3 separate regions of the Homo sapiens genome follow, and all the other regions are linked to region 1. Evidence: fine-mapped expression QTL. A gene starts in region 1. Each other region holds a variant in brackets. All regions are shown on one strand. Distances are between the middles of the regions.

Region 1 (8,276 bases):
GGCTCAACCATAATGACAGACCTTCCTAGCCTAGAATTTGTGTATCAGTTTGAACCCACTTCTTGTTTTGAATAATTATTAAATTCTTTGTCCACTTACCATTTGTCATCCATTGTGACAACAGCTTTATTTATTTATTTATTTATTTTATTTATTTTTTGAGATAGAGTCTCTCTTTGTCGCCAAGACTGGAGTGCAGTAGCACAATTATGGCTCACTAAGGGATCAACTTTCAGGACTCAATCGATCCTCCTGACTCAGCCTCCCGAGTAGCTGGAACTACAGGCATGTGTCCCCACACCTGGCTAATTTTTAAAATTTTCTGTAGAGATGAGGCTTCCACTATGTTGCCCAGGTTGGTCTCGAACTCCTGGGCTCGAGTAATCTGCCCACCTTGGCCTCTCAAAGTATTGGGATTACAGGCGTCAGCCACCATGCCCAGCCCCCAACAGCCTTATTTACATGTACTATTTTGTTAAATCCTCAAATGACATAAATTCTTTTCTATTCCTACTTTACACACCAGAAAACTAGGGATTAAAAAATTGCTAACTGAGTTGGGCATGGTGGCATGCGCCTGCAGTCCCAGCTACTTGGGAGGCTGAGTGGGAGGATTGCTTGAGCAATCTAGGCTTCAGTGGTCTAGGCTTCAGTGAAGGGTGATCACATCACTGCACTCCAGCCTGGGTGACAGAGTGAGACTCTGTCTGTAGAAACATTAAATTAAATAAATTTTTTTGGAAAAAGAGTTAACTAATTGGTCCAAGATCAAACAGCTGGCAATTGATCTGTGATTCAAAGCCAAGTGGGTCTAACTTAACTTCTATACTAAGATGCTTCCTTCAGGGGGGCCAGCAGGCTCTCTGTAAAGGAAAATGCCAGACATAACACTGTGATTGACAGGGCCCAAAAGACTTATGTGTCAGAAAGATTGCCATCCCAGTCGGCAGAGAAAATAGCATGTCAGAGTCCCACATTTGGAAAATTGAATTCCTTAGGCTTTATATCAAGTCTGGGATCACCTGTCCTAAATATCTGAATTATTTTCATAAGAGACACCGAGCAGTATAAGAAACCTCATTAAGCCTTTGCAGATCCTCCTAGTTTATATCACTCTCCCCTGGTCCCGTTCCTTTCTCATGCATTCTTTTTTTTTTTAAGACAGAGTCTCACTCCATTGCTCAGGCTGGAATGCAATGGTGTGATCTTGGCTCACTGCAACCTCTGCCCCCCGGGATCAAGCGATTTTCCTGCCTCAGCCTCCGAGTAGCTGGGACTACAGGCACCTGCCACCATGCCTGGCTAAGTTTTGTATTTTTAGTAGAGACGGGGTTTCACCATGTTGGCCAGGCTGGTCTCAAACTCGACCTCAGGTGATCCATCTGCCTCGGCCTCCCAAAGTGCTGGGATTACAGACATGAGCCACCGTGCCTGGCCTAATTTTTAGTTTTAGTAGAGCAGAGGTCTCACTTTGTTGTCCAGGCTGGTCTTGAACTCCTGGGCCAAAGGGATCTTTCCCCCTTGGCTTCTCAAAGTGCTGGGATTACAGGCGTGAGCCACCGTGCCTGGCCTGACACCCTTTTTAAGCTCCCCACAAGCCTCCCCAACTGAACTGACTTTTGCCACATCTGAAACTCCACAGGACTTTACGCCTCTCTTAGGGCTCTTTTCTACACATTACAAGATTGATACTCATTTAAATAGTTGCTGGCGCTCACTTTTAGATTTGAATTCAACATTAATAGGCATAGGCCAAGGGTTCTACTAGCGAGAATTTAGACTAGAACCCATATTTAACATTTATTAACAAATACTTATTGAGTGTCTGCTACATGTCTGGTACTCTTATGGAAGCTGGAGATAAAGGGGTGGACAAGACAATGTCCCTGTCCTCATGGAGTTCACATGTATTTTCTTCCACAAGTCTTCCTAAATTGGATAAATTAGGAATTTTTTTTCAACTCAATAAGTGTGGGGTGCCTAGAGGCAGCAGTTTTTGGAGGTGACAAAAATACACACACACACACACACACACTTTTAAATTCAACAAGTATTTATTGGGTATAACATGTGCTAGGCTATGTGTTCACCACTAGGAATTTAACAGTGAGCCAGACACCAGTGGTTTCTTTTTCTTTCTCATAATAGCTTTATTGTGATATAATACACATACCATACAATTCACCAGTGTAAAGTGTACAATTTAATGGTTTTGAGTATATTCACATAGTTGTAGAACTAGCATCCCCTAAAAGAAACTCCATACCCATTAGCAGCCACTCCCCATTTTCCCCAACTCTCCCAGCCCTAGGCAACCACTGATTTCCATCTCTGTGGATTTGTCTATTCTAGATATTTCACCTAAATGGAATCATGCAATGCTTTGTCTTTTGTGACTGGATCCTTTCACTAAATCTGTTTCAAGGGTCATTCATGTTGTAGTATTTCCTTTTGTTGCCAGATTAATATTCCATTGTACCAGCGGAATTATTAGTACATTATTCCAATATACCACATTTATTTATCCCTTCATTAGTTGATAAACATTTCAGTTATTTCCACTTTTTAGCTATTATGAATAATGCTGCTGTGAACATTCATGTACAAGTTTTTGTGTGGACAAACGTTTTCAATTTTCTTGGGTATATACCTAGCAGTGGAATTGCTGGTTAATATGGTGATTCCATCTTTAACCTTTTTTTGTTTGTGTGTTTTGAGATAGGGTCTCACTTTGTCGCCCAGGTTGGAGTGCAGTGGCACGATCTCGGCTCACCGCAAACTCTGCCTCCTGGGTTCAAGCGATTCTCCTGCCTCAGCCTCCCCAGTAGCTGAGATTACAGGTGCCCACCACCACACCCGCCTAATTTTTGTATCTTTAGTAAAGACGGGTTTTCACCATGTTGGCCAGGCTAGTCTGGAACTCCTGACCTCAGGTGATCTGCCTGCCTCAGCCTCCCAAAGTGCTGGGATTACAGGCATGAGCCACTGCAGACGGCACATCTTTAACCTTTTGAGCAACTGCAGCTATTTCCCAAAGTGGCTGCACCATTTTACATTCCCACCAGCAGTATATGAGGGTTCCAATTTCTTCACATCTTCCCCTAAACTTATTATTATTTGTCTTTTTTATTACAGCCATCCTCCAATAAATTCAAGTTTTTATTTTGGAATGACTTTCCATTTAAAGAATTTCGAGGATACTACAAAGAGTTCCAGTATATCCTTCATTCATCTTTCCCTAATGGGAGAGAAGGATTATTTTGAAAAAAAAAAAAAAAAAAAAAAAAGAGAGAGAAATGATACCAAGTAATCCAGCTTTAGTCTTTGTTGACTGAAGTGCGTATTAGGAGCTTTGGCCAGTCAAAGCAAAAGGTAGCGAAAAGATAGTCACTTCAAGGTGTCCAAGTTAAGAAAACCAGGAGGTAGAATTCAAGGAGACCATGTCAAATCCTGTCAGCAAAGTCAAGGTCAGAAAGGAAGCCACTTCCTAACGACCCACACCACTGGTGGTCTCATCACGCTGTTGCACCATTTGGATGTTTTCTAATTCTCCCGGGCTGTTTTCTCTCCAATTGGACTGTAAACTCCTGGCAGGCTCAGGCAGTGCTCGGAAGGTCTCTCACACGGTCCAACCTTACGCGAAAAGCACTTATTGAAAGCACCTCGATGGCCGGGCGCGGTGGCTCACGACTGTAATCCCAGCACTTTGGGACGCCAAGGCGGGCGGATCACCTGAGCTCAAGAGTTCGAGACCAGCCTGGCCAACATAGTGAAACCCTGTCTCTACTAAAAATACAAAAATTAGCCAGGTTTGGTGGCGCGCGCCTGTAGTCCCAGCTACTTGGGAGCCTGAGGCAGGAGAATCGCCTGAACCCGCGAGGCGGAGGTTGCAGTGAGCTGAGATTGCGCCACTGCACTCCAGCCTGGGCGACACAGTGAGAAAGAAAGGAAAGAGAGAAAGAGAAAGAAAAAGAGAAAGAGACAGACAGACAGAAAGTAAGCAAGCAAGCAAGCAAGCACCTCAACAGAGACAGAGACGTAAAGAAAGAGAGACAGAGACAGAAAGAAAGAAAGCACCTCCTCAGCTTCCCATAGCGCAGGAGACTTGCTCGACCAGAGAACCTACGGTCAGACGACACATCCACTGCCACACCCATACCCAAGCCGGGACGCGGAACCGCTTCTACCCGCCCACACCGGAGAGGTTGCTCGCGATTGGCCGGGCGGGCACAGAGGCCCGCCTTCCGAAGGTGGCAGAGCAGCCTCCCCAACTAAGCCTGGGTCGCCGCCTCGGTGAAGGGCCGCGGGGCCGAGCGCGGGAAGTGGCGTCCAGTCGGTTTTTGGCAGGCGAGAGCCAGAGCGTGAGAACCCTCCCACGGCGAGGCCAAGCCCTGAGACTGGACTAGCAAGGTCGTGAGTCTCTCTGTCAGCTCTCCGCAGCGAAGGGGCGCGGGGGGCGGGGACCGTGCCCGACCGTGCCAGCTCCCGCCCCGGAAGCGGAAGTGCAAGCACTGCGGGGTCCTGTCCAGTGTGAGCCCGACCCGAGCTCCAGTAGTTCCGCCCGCTGGTCATCGCGCCCTTTCCCCTGCCGGTGTCCTGCTCGCCGTCCCCGCCATGCTGTCTCTAGACTTTTTGGACGATGTGCGGCGGATGAACAAGCGGCAGGTGAGCTTGTCCGTCCTCTTTTTCTCCTGGCTCTTCTTGTCCCTTCGAGGCTGCTGCTGCGGGGCCCGGCGGACCCCAGGGTTCTGGTGTGAGGGTCTGAGCTGGTCTGATACCCGGGTCATTCGCTTTCTTTGGAGACTGTGGCCAGAGGCCGCCTTGTCCGCCTCATTATTTTTAACCCCGAACTGATTCAGGGCCTACCGGGGGCGGGGCGGGAAGCGGTGTCTTCACGTTCCATTCCTCCCACTGAGGCAGGGGAGCAAATGGAAACCGTACGCGCTTGAAGTGGGAGTTGGGGTTGCTTATTGTTTTAGTCATTTTAAGGCGGCGGACTCTTGATTTCTCCAGTCGGAGCGACTCCAGGTGGTTTCGGGAGAGACGAGGTTTAGCCGGTTTCTGGGGCGCTCAGGAAGGCGATTGGAGGCCCCACAAAAACCGTTTTGCTGCTTTCAGCTCCTTGCAACCCTTTAGTAGAGCTGAACCGTAGCGGGCTGCACCGACTTTGACTTGGACCACTCTGGGCTCCGAGTTGGAACAGTTACACTACTTGCCCTTGCGTCCGCTTAGCACTAAGGCGGCAGCCCTCGGAATCTATGGTTTTACAGTCCAATATCAGTGCCACGGGGATCTGGAAATGTAGGTCTCCTGATTTTGTCCTTACACTTTACTTTGATCTTCTAGATCGTATGCCAAATAGTACTGAGAATATTGTTGTAATTATTTAGTCCTTAGAAAAGGTTGTTCTGTTTTATCTTTTGCGCCTAGTGTGTCTGTAGAGCCTAGTTTTGCTGCATCGGACTTTTTTTTTGTTTTAAACAGTATTTTACTGTTATGATTATCCTGATGTCACCATTAAGGATTTTTTTTCCTTGGACTTGCATTTTTTGTACTTATAACTGCCACTTAGGGAAGTAGATACACAACCTTTCCTTACTCCCCTTCAGGCCTTAGCTAGCTCAGTGTCAATTCTGTCAGTCAGAATTGAGCATTCTATAAAAATTGCGCAAACGTTACTTTATGTCTTTATGACAACACTTCAAATTTTTACTTGTATAGTGTTGTCTTTTTTTAATCCATATTTGGATTTCTAGATGCCACAGATATTTCTCTGAGGAAAGTATTTATTTTGAGTCTGATATTTATTGTACTCTATGCTAGGTACAATGAGAGAAATGCAAAGATAGTTAAGAAAGACTCGGCCTTCAAGGAGCCTAAATGTGTAGAAAAGGACTAAGGCAAAACAATAACTTTTTTGAGCTCTTGCCATGTGTGAAGCACTTTATACACCTGTAAGGTAGGTAACGTTGTTCTTATTAAACATGAAGAAAATGAGACTTTGTGAGAAGCAATACAGTATAGAAGTTAAGAATATGGACTCTAAAGCTAGATTTCAGAGGTTTGAAGTAGCTCTGCTACTTACTGGCTGTGTGACTTTGAGCAGATTACTTAACCTGTCTGTGCCTATGTTTACTTTTATTGTTGTAAAAAGATATGCAACATAAAATATTCCATTTCAACCGTTTTTACGTGTATACTTCACTGACATTAGTTGCATTCACTATGTTGTGCAAACGTAGGGTCGCTATGAAGATTAAATGAGTTAATTCATATAAAGCCCTCAGAAGAGTGTCTGGCACATGGTGAGTATTGGCTGTACTGTGGTCGATGTCATTGTTAGAGAGCTTTAGTGATTTGCTTAAGACAGAAGGTAGACTGGGTGCGGTGGCTCACGCCTGTAATCCCAGCACTTTGGGAGGCTGAGGCAGGCGGATCACAATGTCAAGAGATTGAGACCATCCTGGCCAACATGGTGAAACCCCCTCTCTACTAAAAATACAGATACTAGCTGGGCCTGTTGGCGCACGCCTGTAGTTCCAGCTACTCAGGAGGCTGAGGCAGGGGAATCGCCTGGGAGGTGGAGATTGCAGTGAGCTGAGATCGTGCCACCGCACTCCAGCCTGGTGACAGAGTGAGACTCCGTCTCAAAAAAAAAAAAAAAAAAAAAAGAAGGTATATGGCAGGATGTGGATTTGATCTCAGGTCTTACTTTAAAGCCTGAACACTTGGATAAAGAAGGATATGACCTGTTCTAGCAGTGGTAGGAAAATTTTGAGAGGTTCCAGTCAGGGCATTACGAACAGCTTCAAGGAGAAACTAGCATTTAAGTTGGATCTTGAAAGACCTTAATAGCTTCATCTTTAACCTGGGTTGGTTAGCATTCCAATAATCAAAAGGGAAGGAATTCACTCAGCACTTGCAAACCTGCTAGATAGGCTCTAAAGCATAGAGATATATAAGGTACTCTTCCTGCTCTAATAAAATGGACAGGAAGAAAGAACAGAAACATGAAGATACAATGAATAGGCTACTCTGCCCTGTGTTTCTCTAATATGGAGTGATTGTGGTTCAGAATTCATTGCATCTAGGACATTCAGGGTTAGTGGAAGTTTAAATGGTAAAATTATCCTCCCTGGCCTCCCAGAGGTTGTTAGGAATGGATAGGAGGGATTGGATAACATGGGGTGAGGGAGAGTTATGAAATGAGATCTTTATCTGTACATAATATCTAGGAGGAAGAATTGACAATACATGTAGATACTGAGAATCAGACGAAAGAGGGAAACTAGAATTTTGTTTTATTCCTCTAAAAGTTGCTATTATTTGCATAACTTCTCTGCTTATACCTAATTACATATTACATATATGTTAAATGTCTGATTGCTTTGAGTTTTTGTTTTTTTTTTCTTATCAGATCCACAGAGGAATACTTTAGTAAATGAACTCCATCCATTTAAAGTGTACCATTTGATAAGTGTTTTTTTTTTTTTTTTGAGACGGAGTCTCACTCTGTTGCCCAGGCTGGAGTGCAGTAGTGCAATCTTGACTCACTGCAAGCTCCACCTCCCAGGTTCACGCCATTCTCCTGCCTCAGCCTCCCAAGTAGCTGGGACTACAGGCACCCGCCACCACACCCGGCTAATTTTTTGTATTTTTAGTAGAGACAGGGTTTCACCATGGTCTTGATCTCCTGACCTTGTGATCCGCCTGCCTCGGCCTTCCAAAATGCTAGGATTACAGGCGTGAGCCACTGCTCCCGGCCGGCCGATAAGTTTTTATACTTACGTATACTGATCACAATCAAGATATAGAACGTATATATCACCTACAAGACCCGTTCTGTCCCACCTCTAATGTGCTTTTTGTCAGTATAGAGGGGTATGCATTTTATATAAATGGAATCATAGAGTATGTATTCTTTGGAGTTTTAATCAGTTTTTAGGCTGGACGCAGTGGCTCATGCCTGTAATCCAGCACTTTGGGAGGCCGAGCAGGTGGATTGCCTGAGCTCAGGAGTTCAAGACCAGCCTGGCCAACATGGTGAAACCCTGTCTCTACTAAAAATACAAAAATTAGCCGAGCATGGTGGTGCGCACCTGTAATCCCAGCTACTCAGGAGGCTGAGGCAGGAGAATTGCTTCAACCTGGGAGGCAGAGGTTGCAGTGAGCCCAGATCGCACCACTGCACTCCAGCCTGGGCGACAGAGCAAGGCTCTATCTCAAAAAAAAAAAAAAAAGAAAAAAAAGAAAAGAGTATGTTTCAGTTTTGTAAG
Region 2 (8,276 bases), 160 kb after region 1:
ATAGAATAAAATATTAGAATTTTATGCTGTTTGAATTAGTTATCTATTGCTCTGTAACAAATTTAGCAGCTTAAAACAACAAACATTATCTCACAGTTTCTGTGGGTCAGAATTCTGTGCAGTTTATCTTGGGTTCACTGGCTTGGTCTCTCACCAGGCAGTGAAGGTGTTGATGGCGGCTGTGATCATCCCAAGGCAGGATAGGGAGAGAATCTGTCTCCAAGCTCACACTGGCAGGATTCACCTCAGAGGCTGCTGGACTGGGCCTCCGTTTCTAGATGGCTATTGGTCAGAGGCCTTTTACAATACCTTGCCATGTGGGCCTCTCCATAGGGCACCTCATCACATGGCAACTGGCTTCCATCAGAGGGAGCAATGGAAAGAGCAGGAGAAGGGTGACCAAAGCAGGCATCGTAGTCTCCTTGTAGCCTCATCTCAGAAGTGATGTTATTACTTTTGCTGTATTCTCTTTGTTAGAAGTGAGTCACTAGGTCCAGGGGTGGAATTTTACAAGGGTGTGAATGGCAGGAGGTGAGGGTGATCAGGGCCATTTAGAGGCTGCCTACCAGTGTTGAAGAAAATTGTTGACTTCTATGAGCTGTAGCAGCAGACAGTGCTATGCAAGGAGAATGGCTGTTTCAGAAGTCCAGCTCCTCACATGAATTTAATGTGTTGCCTTTTCCCCCATACATTTTGTTTAAATCCATGGTCATCTTGCCATTTAGTGGTGTGGTTTAATTGCATATTTGGGTTAGTCTGTATGTAATGTTTAACATAGGTGTCTCTGTGTTAAACAGGAATCCTCTTCATTTTCTTTACCAATATGGTTTGTGGACTATGATGAGCCAAATCTGACATCAGTTCTGGAATGTCTAGAAGATGCTAAGAAAAACAATTCAGTGAGGAAAGAAGCCAAGCTATTTTCTCTTTTCCTCATGAACATTATATTTAGAAATTAAATATTAAGATATGATAAAAACAAAAGCATGATTAATGACTATAATATTAGAGGAATTAAAGTCTGGGTATTTTAAGTCCTTCCAATCTTACTTACTACCTGGATTCTCTTTATTATTTCCCACATGTATAACCTTAGTTTAGATTAGGAATTCAGGATCTCTTTTTCCCTGAATTCTAACCATTAAGCCAAGCAAGCATTTTGGGTAGTGACCACTAGCCAAGGTGGGAAGTAGAAAAAAGACCAAGGTGGAAGTGAAAGGAGAGAAGGGGAGAATGACACCAGAACTAGTGGGAGGGGATTGCCTTTTCTTTCAAGGGTCTGTAAGTCTGCAGTAAAAGTCAAAGGTATTCAAATAGGAAGTTTTGTTCTTGTTTTAGTATATAAAGAAGTACAACTTTCCATGTTGGAAAAATTTTAAAAACCTTTTTTAAATTATAAAACTCATAAGCAACCATTGTTGAGAAAATTAGTAAAGTACAGAAAAGAGAAAAGAAAAAAATTAAAGTCTCCCATAATTTATCTACCTAATATAACCACTATTGACAGTTGACATGATGGCCATTTTCTGCCAGTATATATTTTTTCTTTGCTAGTAAAATACATAACCCTTATACATATGTTTAAATAGTTGAGGTCATATTCTCTATAGTTTTATATTCTTTTTCTTTTTTTTTTGTGACAGAGTCTCACTCTGTCACCCAGGCTGGAGTGCAGTGGCATGATCTCAGCTCACTGCAAGCTCTACCTCCTGGGTTCCCACCATTCTCCTGCCTCAGCCTCCCCAGTAGCTGGGACTACAGGTGCCCACCACCATGCCCGGCTAATTTTTTGTATTTTTTAGTAGAGATGGGGTTTCACCATGTTAGCCAGGATGGTCTCGATCTCCTGACCTCGTGATCTGCCCACCTTGGCCTCCCAAAATGCTGGGATTACAGGCATGAGCCACTGTGCCCAGCCATTTTATATTCTTTTAAAAAGTATTTACTGTATTTTCCCAGGATGTCATAGTCTTTATAGAAAAATAACAATCATTATTTTCAGTTGACATGATTGTTTACCTAAAAATATCCAAAGGAACCAACTGAAAAAAAAATTTTAAGATTACTGGTTAAAAGTTCTTTTATATAAAAATCAATAGCCTTCCCCAATGTTAGCTATAATCACATAGAAGATATAGTGATGAAGTATTTTTTCAGGTATTTCAGCAAAAATTAAATACCTAGGAATAAACTTAGATGTGCAGGGCTTTTATCAAGGACAGGACAAAATTTTGCTGAGTGGAATGAAAGATTTGCATTCTATGTTCCTGGATGAGCAGATTTCATGTTATAAATATGTTAGTTATCACCATGTCTTCATATTAATTTATAAATGTAATTTCTGCTGGGCACAGTGGCTCATACCTGTAATCCAAACAGTTTGGGAAGCTGAGGCGGGTAGATGACAATTAGCTGGGTGTCTGTGGCACACACTTGTAGTTCCAACTACTCATTAGGCTGAGGAGGGAGGATCACTTGAGCCTGGGAGGCAGAGGTTGCAGTGAGCCGAGATCATGCCTGTGAACTCCAGCCTAGGTGACAGAGTGAGACCCTGTCTCAAAAAAAAAGAAAAAAGAAAAAAAAGTGTGTGTATATATACACATTTTGTATTTTATATATATAAATTGTGTATGTATGTGTATATATACAAATTTCAGTAGAAATTCCAGCAGATTTATTTTTGGCACTTGACAAAATGACTCTAAAATTTGTTTAGAAGAGTAAATAATAAAAAATAATAAAGTATAAACTCTTTCAACCAGATATTAAATAAAATATTGTGGACTAGCCCTGGGCCAGACAGATAAAGGTAATGGAAGTTTAAAACCAGAGTCATGCAAATGAGAATTTAGTATAAGGAAAAGGTGGTGTTTTAACTTACTAGTGAAAAGATAGATTATTCTATAAATAGTTTTAGGAGAACTGGCCATTTGAGGAAGTTTGAGTCTTAACTTCAATTTTTGTCAAAATAAGTTGTAGTAGGTTAAAACACATCTATTCTTAAAAATTAGAACGGAACAACATTGGTTTGAAGATGTTTTAAGAGTTAAGGCTGAGGCTGGGCACAGTGGTTCACACCTGTAATCCCAGCACTTTCAAGGCCAAGGTGAGAAGATTGCTTGAGCTCAGGAGTTTGAGATCAGCCTGGGCAACATAACAAGACTCTCTCTCTCTCTCTTTCTAGACATAGATATACATATAAACACACATACACATACAAAATAGAGTTAAGTTTTGTATGGAGAGCCATGAAGATAAGAGGTAAAAATTAAAGGCTTGATGGACACATGTTTACATCTCCAGCAAGGGGGTTGATAGAAAGAATGATAGACATAGCTCCATTACTGCTACCTCCTTTTAGGAAGCTGCTTCTGAATATCTAAAGATAACAGTTTTATAATAGCAGAAATGAGGTTTTTTTCAGTGTCTAAAATATTACATAACATACATACAACATAAACATGTTCAAAACTTAAATGAAGTAGGATATAAATTTGGGCCTAGTGTTTAAAAAAGTAAATGTATTTACATGAAGGAGAAAACAACTCACCTCCCACTCTTAGAGCCTCTGCCAGTTTATCATAACCTAGTTTCTTGAGAGAATAAGCTACATGTCTTCACCTTTTTTCACTGAGCTCATTATACTCTGGATTCTGCCTTCATCGTTGCGCTAAAATTTATCTCCTAGTTGCCAAATCCAGTGGCTCCCCTCTTAGTCCCCAAATTGACCCCTCTGCAGTATTTTGTTAATGTTGATTGTTCCCTTGTTGAAACATTCCTCCGTTCTTAATGTCCACCAATAAAGAGTTGGTTAAATAAAAATTATAGTGTACAGTTTTATAATAGAATATTCTGTTGTAGACCAAAAAAAATGCAGCCAGTCTTTCCATAAGAGCATGTGCAAACTTCTAAGATATATTAAGTAAAAAAGTAAGGCATAAAATATTATATATAATCTGACCCCTTTAGTATACAGTGTAAAAACATCTATGTCTGTGCTAGTTTATACTTGCTTTTTTCTCCCCTGTTGGATACAGGGAACTGTGAATAGTAGAACACAATTAAAAAAGACTGTGTGGCTTCTGTGCCAGGACCTGTGATAATTGGGTATAAAAGACAAAAAAGGTATTTCCCTATCCTCTGGGAAGGGACGTGATAATCAACTGGGACTTTTATCAGATTATTTTCTCCTGTTTTGATCTTATCACCCTGCCTTGGTCTCCTCCGAGCTCTTCTTCCTTGGCCTACTTCTTTCTTCTCTTCTCATTCTGTGCTTTCTCTGA[G/C]TAGTCTTTGACTCCCATTACTTAAGTCATGACCTGTGTTCCAGGGATTCCTAAATCTGTATTCATCTCCAGAGTTTCATACCCATATTTCTGTCTGTATATCATATATGTTAGGGAATCTCACTTGGCATGACGTGGGTGTTCAAGATGATATTTAAATTTTCATGTATCCACCTCCTAGCACCCTATCAGCCCCATCATGTGTTCCATCAATAATTCTCCTTGTCATTGTGAGTGGGACAAAATGAAATAATCAAAGTAGTCACCCATGCCTAAACCTGGGAACTGTCTTAGCGTTCTTTTATATGCTACTGTTCTCTTATCCCCCCAAACTAGTAAATTTCTAAGACCTGTCCTTCTGAATGTTCTTACTATTTTCCCTGTGATCTCAGTTTCTTCTTCCCATCCCTCAAATGCTTTTTGTGTGTGTGCGTGGTGGCGAAGAGAGTAAAATTGAAATTCATGGAAAATGTACTACCCTGTCTTTCTTTCTTTCTTTCTCTCTTTCTCTCTCTCTCTCTCTCTCTCTTCTTTCTTTCTTTTCTTGCAATGAAGTCTCGCCTCGCTCTGGTCACCCAGGCTGGAGTACAATGGCACAATCTTGGCTCACTGCAACCTCCACCTCCTGGGTTCAAGTGATTCTCGTGCCTCAACCTCCTGAGTAGCTGGGATTACAGGCATCTGCCACCATGCCCAGCTAATTTTTGTATTTTTAGTAGAGATGAGGTTTCATCATGTTGGCCAGGCTGGTCTCAAACTCCTGACCTCAGGTCATCCACCCACCTCGGCCTCCCAAATTGCTGGGATTACAGGTGTGAGCCACTGTGCCTGGCCACTACCCTGTCTTTCTTGTTGCTTGGTATGACTCACTAACCTGCTGCCTCTCTCCCACTGCAGTGGGATAATTTAGGAATCCGAGAGACTGAGGGGTTGAGGAGGATATATATTATTATTTAGGTGCACCGGCCCAGTCAAATTAACATCTAAAGGACTGAGCCCTGAACAAAGAGTCAGGTTACCTTTTAAGCATTTTGTGGGTTCGGGGGAGATCTGTGCAAGGGGAAGCATATTACAGAAGCAAGAAACAAAGACAGTTATTCAGTTGAGACATGCATTACATTATTTCTTACTTTTCAAGGAAAAACATGTTTTACAACTTGAGTTTATCTGTCTAGTGACCTTGCAGCTGCACAGCTAGAGAAACAGGGTCTTCACAATGCCTGGGAGAGGAGGAGAGATGAGGTTCACTAGCCTCAGAAAAACAGGCAGTTAATTTTTAAAGGACTCCACCTCTTTTTCTTTCTTAGGGGGAATTCGGTTTTTTTTTTTTTAACAAACAGTGTTTGCTTACACATTCTTTTTTATTATTATTTTTATACTTTAAGTTCTGGGATACATGTGCATAATGTGGAGGTTTTTTACATATGTATACATGTGCCATGTTGGTATGCTGTACCCATTAACTCATCATTTACATTAGGTATACCTCTCCCCTCCCCCCACCCCACAACAGGCCCCAGTGCGTGATGTTCCCCATCCTGTGTCCAAGTGTTTTCATTGTTCAATTCCCACCTATGAGTGAGAACATGTGGTGTTTGGTTTTCTGTCCTTGCGATAGTTTGCTGAGAATGATGGTTTCCAGCTTCATCCATGTCCCTACAAAGGACATGAACTCATCCTTTTTTATGGCTGCATAGTATTCCATGGTGTGTATGTGCCACATTTTCTTAATCCAGTCTATCATTGATGGACATTTGGGTTGGTTCCAAGTCTTTGCTATTGTGAATAGTGCCGCACTAAACATATGTGTGCATGTGTCTTTATAGCAGCATGATTTATAATCCTTTGGGTATATACCCAGTAATGGGATGGCTGGGTCAAATGGTATTTCTAGTTCTAGATCCTTGAGGAATTGCCACACTGTCTTCCACAATGGTTGAACTAGTTTACAGTTCCACCAACAGTGTAAAAGTGTTCCTATTTCTCCACATCCTCTCCAGCGCCTGTTGTTTCCTGACTTTTTAATGGTTGCCATTCTAACTGGTGTGAGATGGTATCTCATTGTGGTTTTGATTTGCATTGCTCTGATGGCCAATGATGATGGGTGTTTTTTCATGTGTCTGTTGGCTGCATAAATGTTTTCTTTTGAGAAGTCTCTGTTGATGGGGTTGTTTGATTTTTTTCTTGTAAATTTGTTTAAGTTCTTTGTAGATTCTGGATATTAGTCCTTTGTCAGAGGGGAAGATTGCAAAAATTTTCTCCCATTCTGTAGGTTGCCTGTTCACTCTGATGGTAGTTTCACATTCTTTAATTTCTTTTAATTCCTGTTTCACCCCAGCACTCCTGTAGCCCCTTCTGTGCCAGAGGTCAGAGTGTGCAGGTCTGTGTCCAGATCACCCTGCCTCATCTTCATTATATACTTAGCACAAAACAGAGCACATTGCGTGCATAATGAATCCACACTGGGGCTTGGCTTCCTTTTAAGCATGAGGATTTTTGGTGTATCCTAATTTACGGTTCAACCTTCCTGTTTCCACTTGCTTCATTGTTCACTTTGGGAAGGCTTATTCTTTGCTTTGTTAACCCATTCTAATCCTGTGTCTTCTTACTTTGTCATTTGTAAACCTGCTTCTTTCTCTTCATCTCTTTTCTTGGTCAGAGACACCCAGAAAATTGTTCCTGACCAAGTGAAGTGAGTGCTTATTAGATCCCATATGAGTCACCTTATACATTAAAAAACATTTTAAACAATGAAAACCACACTTGTGCACATAGTTTACCTTGCTTATTTCCTTAAAGTAAACAATCTTACAATACAATTTGGACTTAAACATGGAAACTTACAGTTATTTTTTGCAGTTTCCTAGTGAATGATTATTTTTTAGACAGACACTTAAGAGCCTACTAAGTATCAAGTGTTTTACAGGTTTCATTTAATCTTTACTATTCCGGGGAAGTTTTCATTTCCTTGTTTTACAGATGAGTACACTGAAACTCAAGGAATTAGATATGATATCCAAGGTCATCTAGATTTCCAGGCTCTGTCTGCTGGATCACATTTGCTTTTGTACTTTTAACTATGACTGGAATATATAATTTTATAATCCATGTGTAACAATACTGCCTGTGTGTGGTTTTTTTTCTTTTTCCTTTTTGGGTCACCTCATTAATGCAGTAATGTTCTCTTGTTTGAAGTTGTAAGTTTCTAAGAAAACAAGGTAGCAATGAGAAATTGGACAATGTCTGGAACTTCCTTCCTCTGCCTTTATTGTTGTCATTCCATTAGGTATCAGTTGTAGTGATTATACACCAAGCCATAGTAACTTTCTTAAACTAGAGGCTCCTGAAAATATTTCAAAGAGTTTTTTAAAATATCTGTAAGCTGCAGTTGAGCAGTAACAAACTTTTTTATTTCCTACTGGATTGATTGCAGTAGTCATACCATTATTGATGTCTTCTCAGTGCTCTTTAACATAATGCTTATTTACTGAAATGTGTTTTGTAGCTTCATCAGCAATGGAAGTGGCTGATATGTGGACTCTGCAGATTATATAACCTTCCTAAGCACCCGAATGTTGAGATGCCAGATCAACCACTACCCATGGGTCAGGTAAAGTAAAAATTCTGTAGTGTTCAAGAGCTAAAATAAATTGTCTCAAACAAAAGTCAAACTAGGATGATTTTTTAAAAATTATTCAACTTATTTAGAAGTTAGTTTTTCTGTTCCTATTGAATTGTTTGTTCTGTTTTAGATACTAAAAATAACATTTTCATTCTTTGGAACTGCTGGTATTTAGTATGGCAGGCAAACAATTGCCCTTTTCCCTAACACCAGCTTTTTGTTGTGAATATTCCTGGGGTCCATAAATGTTCTTGCTTCTTTCATTGTTTGTCTTTGCTTATTGACTTGCCTTCACCTAGAAATGCCATCTCCTTAAATCTGTCTATGCTTCTTAAGGACTCACCCAAATATTATCTCCTACAAGCAACAGA
Region 3 (8,000 bases), 24 kb after region 1:
CCCACTCCACGTCTTCAATTCAGCCTTCAGAATAAGAAGACCCATTTTGTCTTTTAAAAAGCCACCATCTTGAAAACATAGAATTTAGGAGGCCAGAGTTCTAATAGTGCTACTCTGCCAGCCAGTAGACAAGCAGCCATGAGCATGTCGCTTAGCTTCTCTGTGCCTCAGTTTCCTTACCTGTAAATGTGAGTGTCAAAGTAGGTTTCAGATTATCCATGTGCTCACATCACTCTATTACTGAAAGAACAGCAAATATTTCTAATTGTCTCGGCGAAAATGTTCATATTTCCTTTTGTGGAAATTGATTAATTACATTGATTGAGTACACCGTGCTTCATTGGAATGCTAGAAGAATAGTGTTCTGGCCATTAGCGTGGACTTAAAAAAATAAACCAAAACAGTTTAGTTTTGAACAGGTGATACTTGCATATAGTAAAAACTGTAAAAACATGAAGTATGTATATCAGAAAATATTTTTCTTCCACCTTGACTCCTGGTTCCTTTTCTCCAGTTTCTTGTCTGTCTTTTCAGAGATTAACTGTGCATTTATAAGAATATGAAACTTGATCGCTTCTCGGCCTTTTGGCTAAGATCAAGTGTGAAGAATATGAAACTTGAAATGTTTTTAAAAAGTATGCAGGAAAAACAGGTTAATTGTAGGGAGAAAATAGAAAATGGTACAAGAGAGCTGGATTCCTCATCACAATTGTATTTATTTTTTGAGACACAGTCTTGCTCTGGCACCTGGGCTAGAATGCAGTGGGGCAATCATAGCTCACTGCAGCCTTTACGTCCTGGGTTCAAGTGATTCTCCTGCCTCAGCCTCCAAGGAGCTGGGACTACAGGCATGCACCACCACACCCAGCTAATTTTTCTTTTTTTTTTTTTGAGACGGAGTTTCGCCCTTGTTGCCCAGGCTGGAGTGCAATGGTGCGATCTCGGCCCACTGCAACCTCCGCCTCCCAGGTTCAAGCGATTCTCCCACCTCAGCCTCCCGAGTATCTGAGATTACAGGCATGTGCCACCAAGCCCAGCTAATTTTGTATTTTTAGTAGACATGGGGGTTTCTCCATGTTGGGCAGGCTAGTCTCGAACTCCCAACCTCAGGTGATCTGCTCGCCTTGGCCTCCCAAAGTGCTGGGATTACATGCGTGAGCCACCGAGCCCAGCCTCTGGATATTTTTTTTTAATCATCCGCATCTCTATTTAGTGTGCTAAATTTTCCTCTACCTTCTTTTTTTTTTTTTTTTTTTTTTTTTTTTTAGATGGAGTCTTGCTGTGTCGCCCAGGCTGGAATGCAATGGTGCGATCTCAGCTCACTGCAACCTCTACCTCCCGGGTTCAAGCAATTCTCCTGCCTCAGCCTCCCGAGTAGCTGGAATTACAGGCACACGCCACTGCGCCTGGCTAATTTTTGTATTTTTAGTAGAGATGGGGTTTCACCATGTTGGCCAGGCTGGTCTTAAACTCCTGACCTCGTGATCCGCCTGCCTCGGCCTCTCAAAGTGCTGGGATTACAGGCGTGAGCCACTGCACTCGGCCTTTTTTTGTATTTTTTTTTGTAGAGATAAAGGTCTTGCTTTCTGGTCTCGAACTCCTAGGCTCAAGTGATCCTCCCACCTCAGCCTCCCAAAGTGTTGGGATTACAGGCATGAGTCTCTGTGCCTAGCCCCTCATTGTACATTTTGAACATCATGCATTAACACCCTAGTATGAAAGTAAACAAACAGTTTTTAGAGTGGTTGGGGTAAACACCAGAATGAATAGCTAGAAGAGATGAAAATGGTTGATGTAGGTGGCCTGCCATGGCTAGGATATTGCTTTTTTTTACATATTCTTGTATGTATGTGTGTATACTGTTTTGATTAAAAATAACAATTGATTTAAAAAGGGAAGTAGAAAATGTAGATGATCAAAATGAAATAAATAAGAATTGCCTAGTATTACACCCCCAAATATAACAACTAACATTTATTTTATTTTCTTCCTTTTTTTTTTTGAGAGAGTCTTGCTCAGTTGCCCAGGCTGGAGTGCAGTGGTGCGATCTCAGCTTACTGCAACCCCCGCCTCCTGGGTTCAAGTGATTCTTGTGCTTCAGCCTTTTGAGTAGCTGGGATTACAGGCATGTCCCACCACACCCAGCTAATTTTTGTGTTTTTAGTAGAGATGGGGTTTCGCCATGTTGGCCAGGCTGGTCTCCTACTTCTGGCCTCAAGTGATCCACCCACCTCAGCCTCCCAAATTGCTGGGATTACAGATGTGAGCCACTGCACCTGGCTTCTTCCATATTTTCTATGCATTTTTTGGAATTTTTCAGAAAAAATTGAAAAAACAGTACAGGGAACACCTGTAATCTGTCACACAGATCCAACAATTATTAGCATTTTGGCCATATTTGTTCTATGTATACTTATGTGTGTGTGCATATATAGAATTTTCTTTTGCTGAATCACTTGAAAATGAGTTGCAGATATGAGAATTCACCCCTAACTACAACTACTAGCTAACTACTACTAATATGCATCTCCTGTGATAAGGATAGTATTCCACATAACCACAACACCATTATCACATAATTTAAGAAAATTAGAGGCCGGGTACAGTGGCTCACATCTGTCATCCCAGCACTTTGGGACGTCAAGGCGGGTGGATTGCTTGAGGCCAGGAGTTTGAGACCAGTCTGGCCAGCATGGTGAAACCCCGTCTCTACTAAAAATACAAAAATTGGCCGGGCGTGATGATGCATGCCCATTGTAATCCCAGCTACTTGGGAGGCTATGGCACGAGAATCACTTGAACTTGGGAGGTAGAGGTTGCAGTGAGCTGAGATCATGTCACTGCACTCCAGCCTGTGTGATAGAGCAAGACCCTGTCTCAAAAAAAAAAAAGAAGAGAAAAAAAGAAAACATGAATTTCCTAATGTCATTTAATATTCAAATCATATTTTGAGTTTCCCCAGTTCACCCCAAAATATTCAGATTTTTTCTTATGCTTTTTTTTTTTTGAACCAAGATCCAGCCAAAGTTTGTGCATTATTAGAACTGAATGAGAAGAAAAAAACAACAAAGAAACCAAAGTTTGTGCGTTACATTTGGTTGTTATATCTCTTTAGTACTTTTTAATCTAGAACAGTCTTCCACCTTTTTTTCCATGACATTGAATGACATTGGATTTTTGAAGAGACTAGGACAGTTGTGTAGAATGTCCACAAGCAAATATTAACAAAAGTGACCAGGCATGGTGGCTCATACCTGTAATCCCAGCCCTTTGGGAGGCTGAAGTAGGCGGATTGCTTGAGCCCAGGAGTTCAAGATCAGCCTGGGCAATATGGCGAAACCTCATCCCTACAAAACATACAAAAATTACCACGTCTGGCTACTCGGGAGGCTGAAGTGGGAGGATTGCTTGAGCCCAGGAGTTGGAGGCTGCAGTGAGCTGTGATTGTGCCACTGCACTCCAGCCTGGGCAACAGAGTAAGACCTTTTGAAACTTCTGTTTTTTCACTTTATATTACTAATATTTTGTTAGATCCACAGTTTCAGTCCTGTGTTTAAGTTTCTTCATAGTTGGACCTTAATATATGCTTTTTCAGATTTCTCCCAGTACTTTCCAGTACCAGCTTTTTCCTTGAACTATTTGCCATGGTGTCTAGTCATCCTCTCTATACTTTTTCCAGCCTTGGCCCAAAACAGTTAGCTCACATTATTTATCTTATCTGATTTTGTAATATTTTTTGCCTTTTTCCACGTGTTCTGAATTTTCTTTATTTGAAATTGAAATGCCGTCTGGTGTTTTATCTGTTTATTCAAGTCACAGAATTTTAGAGTTTGTTGGAGTACTGGAAATTTAGTAAGAAGGCTGACCTTCAAGTCTTGACTATGTGACTGATAAGCTTAGGACTTGGTGAAGTCTCCTCTTTTCGAGACAGTTTCCTTAACTGTAAAATGAGAAGGTAGAGTTAAATGTCATTAACTATTCCCATGATTATCAAGGGATAAGTATAGTAGAAAAGTAATAGAGGGCCGGGTGTGGTGACTCACGCCTGTAATCCCAGCCCTTTAGGAGGTGGAGGTGGGCAGATCATTTGAGGTCAAGAGTTCGAGACCAGCCTGATCAACATGGTGAAACCCAGTTTCTACTAAAAATTCAAAAAAATTAGCTGGGCGTGATGACGCATGCCTGTAGTCCCAGCGACTCGGGAGGCTGAGGCAGGAGAATTTCTTGAACCCAGGAGACAGAGGTTGCAGTGAGCTGAGATGGCACCACTGTACTCCAGCCTGGGTGACTGAGCAAGAGCGAGGCTCCATCTCAAAAAAAAAAAAAAAAAGAAAAAGAAAAAGTAATAGAGGAGTTCAGAAGCAGAGACAGATTACTCTTGGCTGGTAAGTAGCATGAGTGATAAATTTAAGCTGAATGATTATGGAGCCCAAATGAAATAACTTGTGTGAAATGTTCTTAAAATAATATGGTGTTATATAAATGTAACTGATGTTTTACCAAACAAAATGGAGCAGGGTGCTTTGGGTGAAAGAAGGGGGGCCTGTTTTGATCTGCTGATGGCATAATTATTATAATGTATTAAAGAATGTCTCAGAACTGTAGTTGTCCTAATAGTACTGCTTGAAACTTTCAAATTGTTACTGCTTTCAGTTGCTTTCCGAAGTGGGGATAATGGTGGATCTGATCTCTTCTG[T/C]TTTGTTCTTGCAGCTCTATTATCAAGTCCTAAATTTTGGAATGATTGTCTCATCGGCACTAATGATCTGGAAGGGGTTAATGGTAATAACTGGAAGTGAAAGTCCGATTGTAGTGGTGCTCAGGTAACAGTTTTTCCTTTCAAGGCATGGAATTGCATGGCATTACTTGGGAGAAAAATTGAGATATGAAATAACTGGCATATCATTCTCTTAGAAACTACTCTTTTCCAGAAAAGGGCCTGGAAGAAAATTAGTCACTACTTATCAGTTGTAAGAAATTCTCAGGCTGGGCACGGTGGCTTATGCCTGTAATCCCACCAATTTGGGATGCTGAGGCCGGTGGATTACTTGAGCTATGGAATTTGAGACTAGCTTGGGCAACGTGGTGAAACCCTGTCTCCACAAAAAATACAAAAATTAGCGGGTGTGGTGGCATGGACCTGTAGTCTCAGCTACTCGGGAGGCTGAGGTGGGAGGATCACCTAAGCCCTAGAGGTTGAGGCCTGCAGTGAGTTGTGATTGCACCACTGCACTTCAGCCTGGGTGACAGAGCGAGACCCTGTCTCCAAAAAAAAAAAAAAAAAGAGAGAAAAGAAATTCTTACTTTGTTAGGCATTTCCATTCAGAACTCCAAAGGGCTCATGACCTTTCTACAAAAAAGTTACCATGTTAAGGTTTGTTTTTGTCACATCCCTTAATAAAGTGTCTCGTTGTACTTTATTTTCCTGAAATTCTTCTGTCTTTTTATATTCCTCATTTTGATACACCAGGCCTGATATTTAGTTGTTAGTTCATTAGATGTTATAGTACTTCCACAAATTAAGAGTTTTTCTGTAGCATGTTCTCAATGTCAGGATAGAATCATCACTAATTATTTCCAAGTTTCCTGCTGACCTTTAAATATCACTTCTAAACTAGACTCCAGGAATTTTGAAGGCATTAATACCATCTCTTATGGTGACAAATAGTACTGAATTTTTTTTCTCCACTCTGCTTCCTTCCCTATCTTTGCACTCATACTCTTAGTGAATATTTTTTTTAAAGATGGGGTCTCGCTCTGTTACCCAGGATAGAGTGCAGTGGCGCCGTCATAACTCACTGCAGACTCCACCTACCGGTCTCAAGGGATCCTTCCATTTTAGCCTCCTGAGCAGGTGGGACTGCAGGCCTGCCCCACCATGCCTGGTTAATTTTTTAATTTTTTTGTAGAGACGGTGTATTAGTCCATTTTCATGCTGCTGATAAAGACGTACCCAAGACTGGGCAATTTACGAAAGAAAGAGGTTTACTGGACTTACAGTTCCACGTGACTGGGGAGGCCCCACAATCATGGCAGAAGGTGAAAGGCAGGTCTCACATGGCGGCAGACAAGAGAAGAGAGCTTTTGCAGGGGAACTCCCCTTTTTAAAACCATCAGATCTCGTGAGACTTATTCACTGTTACTAGAACAGCACAGGAAAAACCTGCCCCATGATTCAGTTACCTCCTGCTGGGTCCCTCCCAAAACACGTGGGAATTCAAGATGAGATTTGGGTGGGGACACAGCCAAACCGTAGCAGATAGGATCTCACTGTGTTGCCCAGTCTGGTCTTGAACTCCTGGGTTCAAGGATCCTCCCACCTTGGCCTCCCAACATGCTGGGATTACAAGCATGAGCCACCATGCGCAACCACTCTTAGTGATTTTAAAACCTAATTTAGTAACTCATTTTTAGAGAATTACCACTTGGTTGTTTGACTGAAACATTATAGGCTGGGTGTGGTGGCTCACACCTGTAATCCCAGCACTTTGGAAGGCCAAGGCGGGCAGATCACTTGAGGCTAGGAGTTCGAGACCAGCCTGGCCAGCATGTTGAAACCCCATCTCTACTAAAAATACAAAAATTAGCTGGGCGTGGTGGCAGGCGCCTGTAGTCCCAGCTACTCAGGAGGCTGAGGCAGGAGAATTGCTTGAACCTAGGAGGCGGAGATTGCAGTGAGCGGAGATCGCTCCATTGCACTCCAGCCTGGGTGACAATTGAAATTTTGTCTCAAAAAAAAAAAAAAAAAGAAAGAAAAGAAACATTACAGTTTTGTCATATTTTGGGCTTAATTTTGTAAGCCCAGATCTTTTCTGGAGATAATGGAGTGCATATTTAAAATAAATGGAATTATTAATATTATCTAGAATCTAAATAATAGTGCATTAACATTATCTAGAACCTAAGTAATAGTACTTAGATTACTCTTTTTTAACCAAATTATCGAGATATGATTGACATACAAAAAGCTGTACATATTTAATGTATACAACTTGATCAATTTGCAGGTAAGTATATTCCTGTGAAACCATCATCACAATCAAGCAAGTGAATATATTCATCACTTTCAAAAGTTTCTTCCCTTTCTATTTTTTTGTGATAAGAACATTTAACACAGGGCCTCCCTCCATCGCCCAGACTGGAGTGTGCCATCACACTTGGCTAATTTTTTTTTTACAGAGACTGAGTCTTGAACTCCTGATCTCAAGTGATCCTCCCCCCTCAACCTCCCAAGTGCTGGGATGATAGGCTTGAACCATCGTGCCTGGCCCCCAGTTTCTTTTCTTTTCTTTTTTTTCTTTTCTTCTTCTTCTTTTTTTTTTTTTTTTGAGACAGAGTCTCACTGTATTGCCCAGGCTGGAGTGCAATGGCGCAATCTCAGCCCATTCAACCTCCACCTCCTGGGTTCAAGTGATTCTTCTGCGTCAGCCTCCTGAGTAGCTGGGATTACAGGCGTGCGCCACCATGCTCACCTAATTTTTGTATTTTTAGTTGAGACTGGGTTTCACTGTGTTGATCAGGCTGGTCACGAACTCCTGACCTCAGGTCACCTGCCCACCTCGGCCTCCCGAAGTGCTGGAATTACAGGTGTGAGCCACCGCACCTGGCTGAGATTTTTTAAAAGTCCCTCAGGTCATTCCAATGTGCAGCAAAATTTGAGACCCACTGCCATATCCCTTTACATAGAGGGAAGAGAGTCTTTAAACAAAAGTGTTTGGAGTTTGTACTTATTCCTGCGTTGAACTTTATTTCTTGTCTTTCTATTCTTACTTAAGCTGTTGTTATAGAAAACCGGAGCTTGAGTTTCTGAAAAAGACTGATGGGCTACTTCTTTATAGATAAAAAGGGGTTCATAAATTAGTGCAAATATCTTAGGACCTTTTCAGCACTTGGCGTAGGATGGAAGAGGTAAGAGGTAAGAAGATACTCTGTAGAAGTTAGTCTTACTTGTTACCATGGAATTGAATCTTTTCCTGGCTTCGGAAATTCTTAGGCAAAAATCT

What was found. PIP is the estimated chance that this variant, and not a neighbour inherited with it, causes the effect.
Region 2: its variant is fine-mapped to the expression of SEC11A in whole blood (INTERVAL, PIP above 0.99).
Region 3: its variant is fine-mapped to the expression of SEC11A in whole blood (INTERVAL, PIP above 0.99).

Annotation. Positions count from the first base shown.
Region 1 is chr15:84,712,414-84,720,689 of GRCh38, reverse strand. SEC11A (SEC11 homolog A, signal peptidase complex subunit) reads left to right here and starts at 4,551. Exons shown (of 6, transcript NM_014300.4): 1 at 4,551-4,665. The coding sequence starts at 4,615. RefSeq lists enhancers at 3,203-3,766, 3,888-3,997, 4,018-4,137, 3,767-4,332, 4,808-4,877 and 1 more.
Region 2 is chr15:84,554,583-84,562,858 of GRCh38, reverse strand. It overlaps the pseudogene UBE2Q2P1. Among named protein-coding and RNA genes, the nearest start is that of LINC00933, 12 kb to the left of the region's middle. The variant G/C (reference allele first, on the strand shown) is at 4,284.
Region 3 is chr15:84,688,355-84,696,354 of GRCh38, reverse strand. SEC11A (SEC11 homolog A, signal peptidase complex subunit) reads left to right here. Exons shown (of 6, transcript NM_014300.4): 2 at 4,711-4,820. Among named protein-coding and RNA genes, the nearest start is that of SEC11A, 24 kb to the left of the region's middle. The variant T/C (reference allele first, on the strand shown) is at 4,697.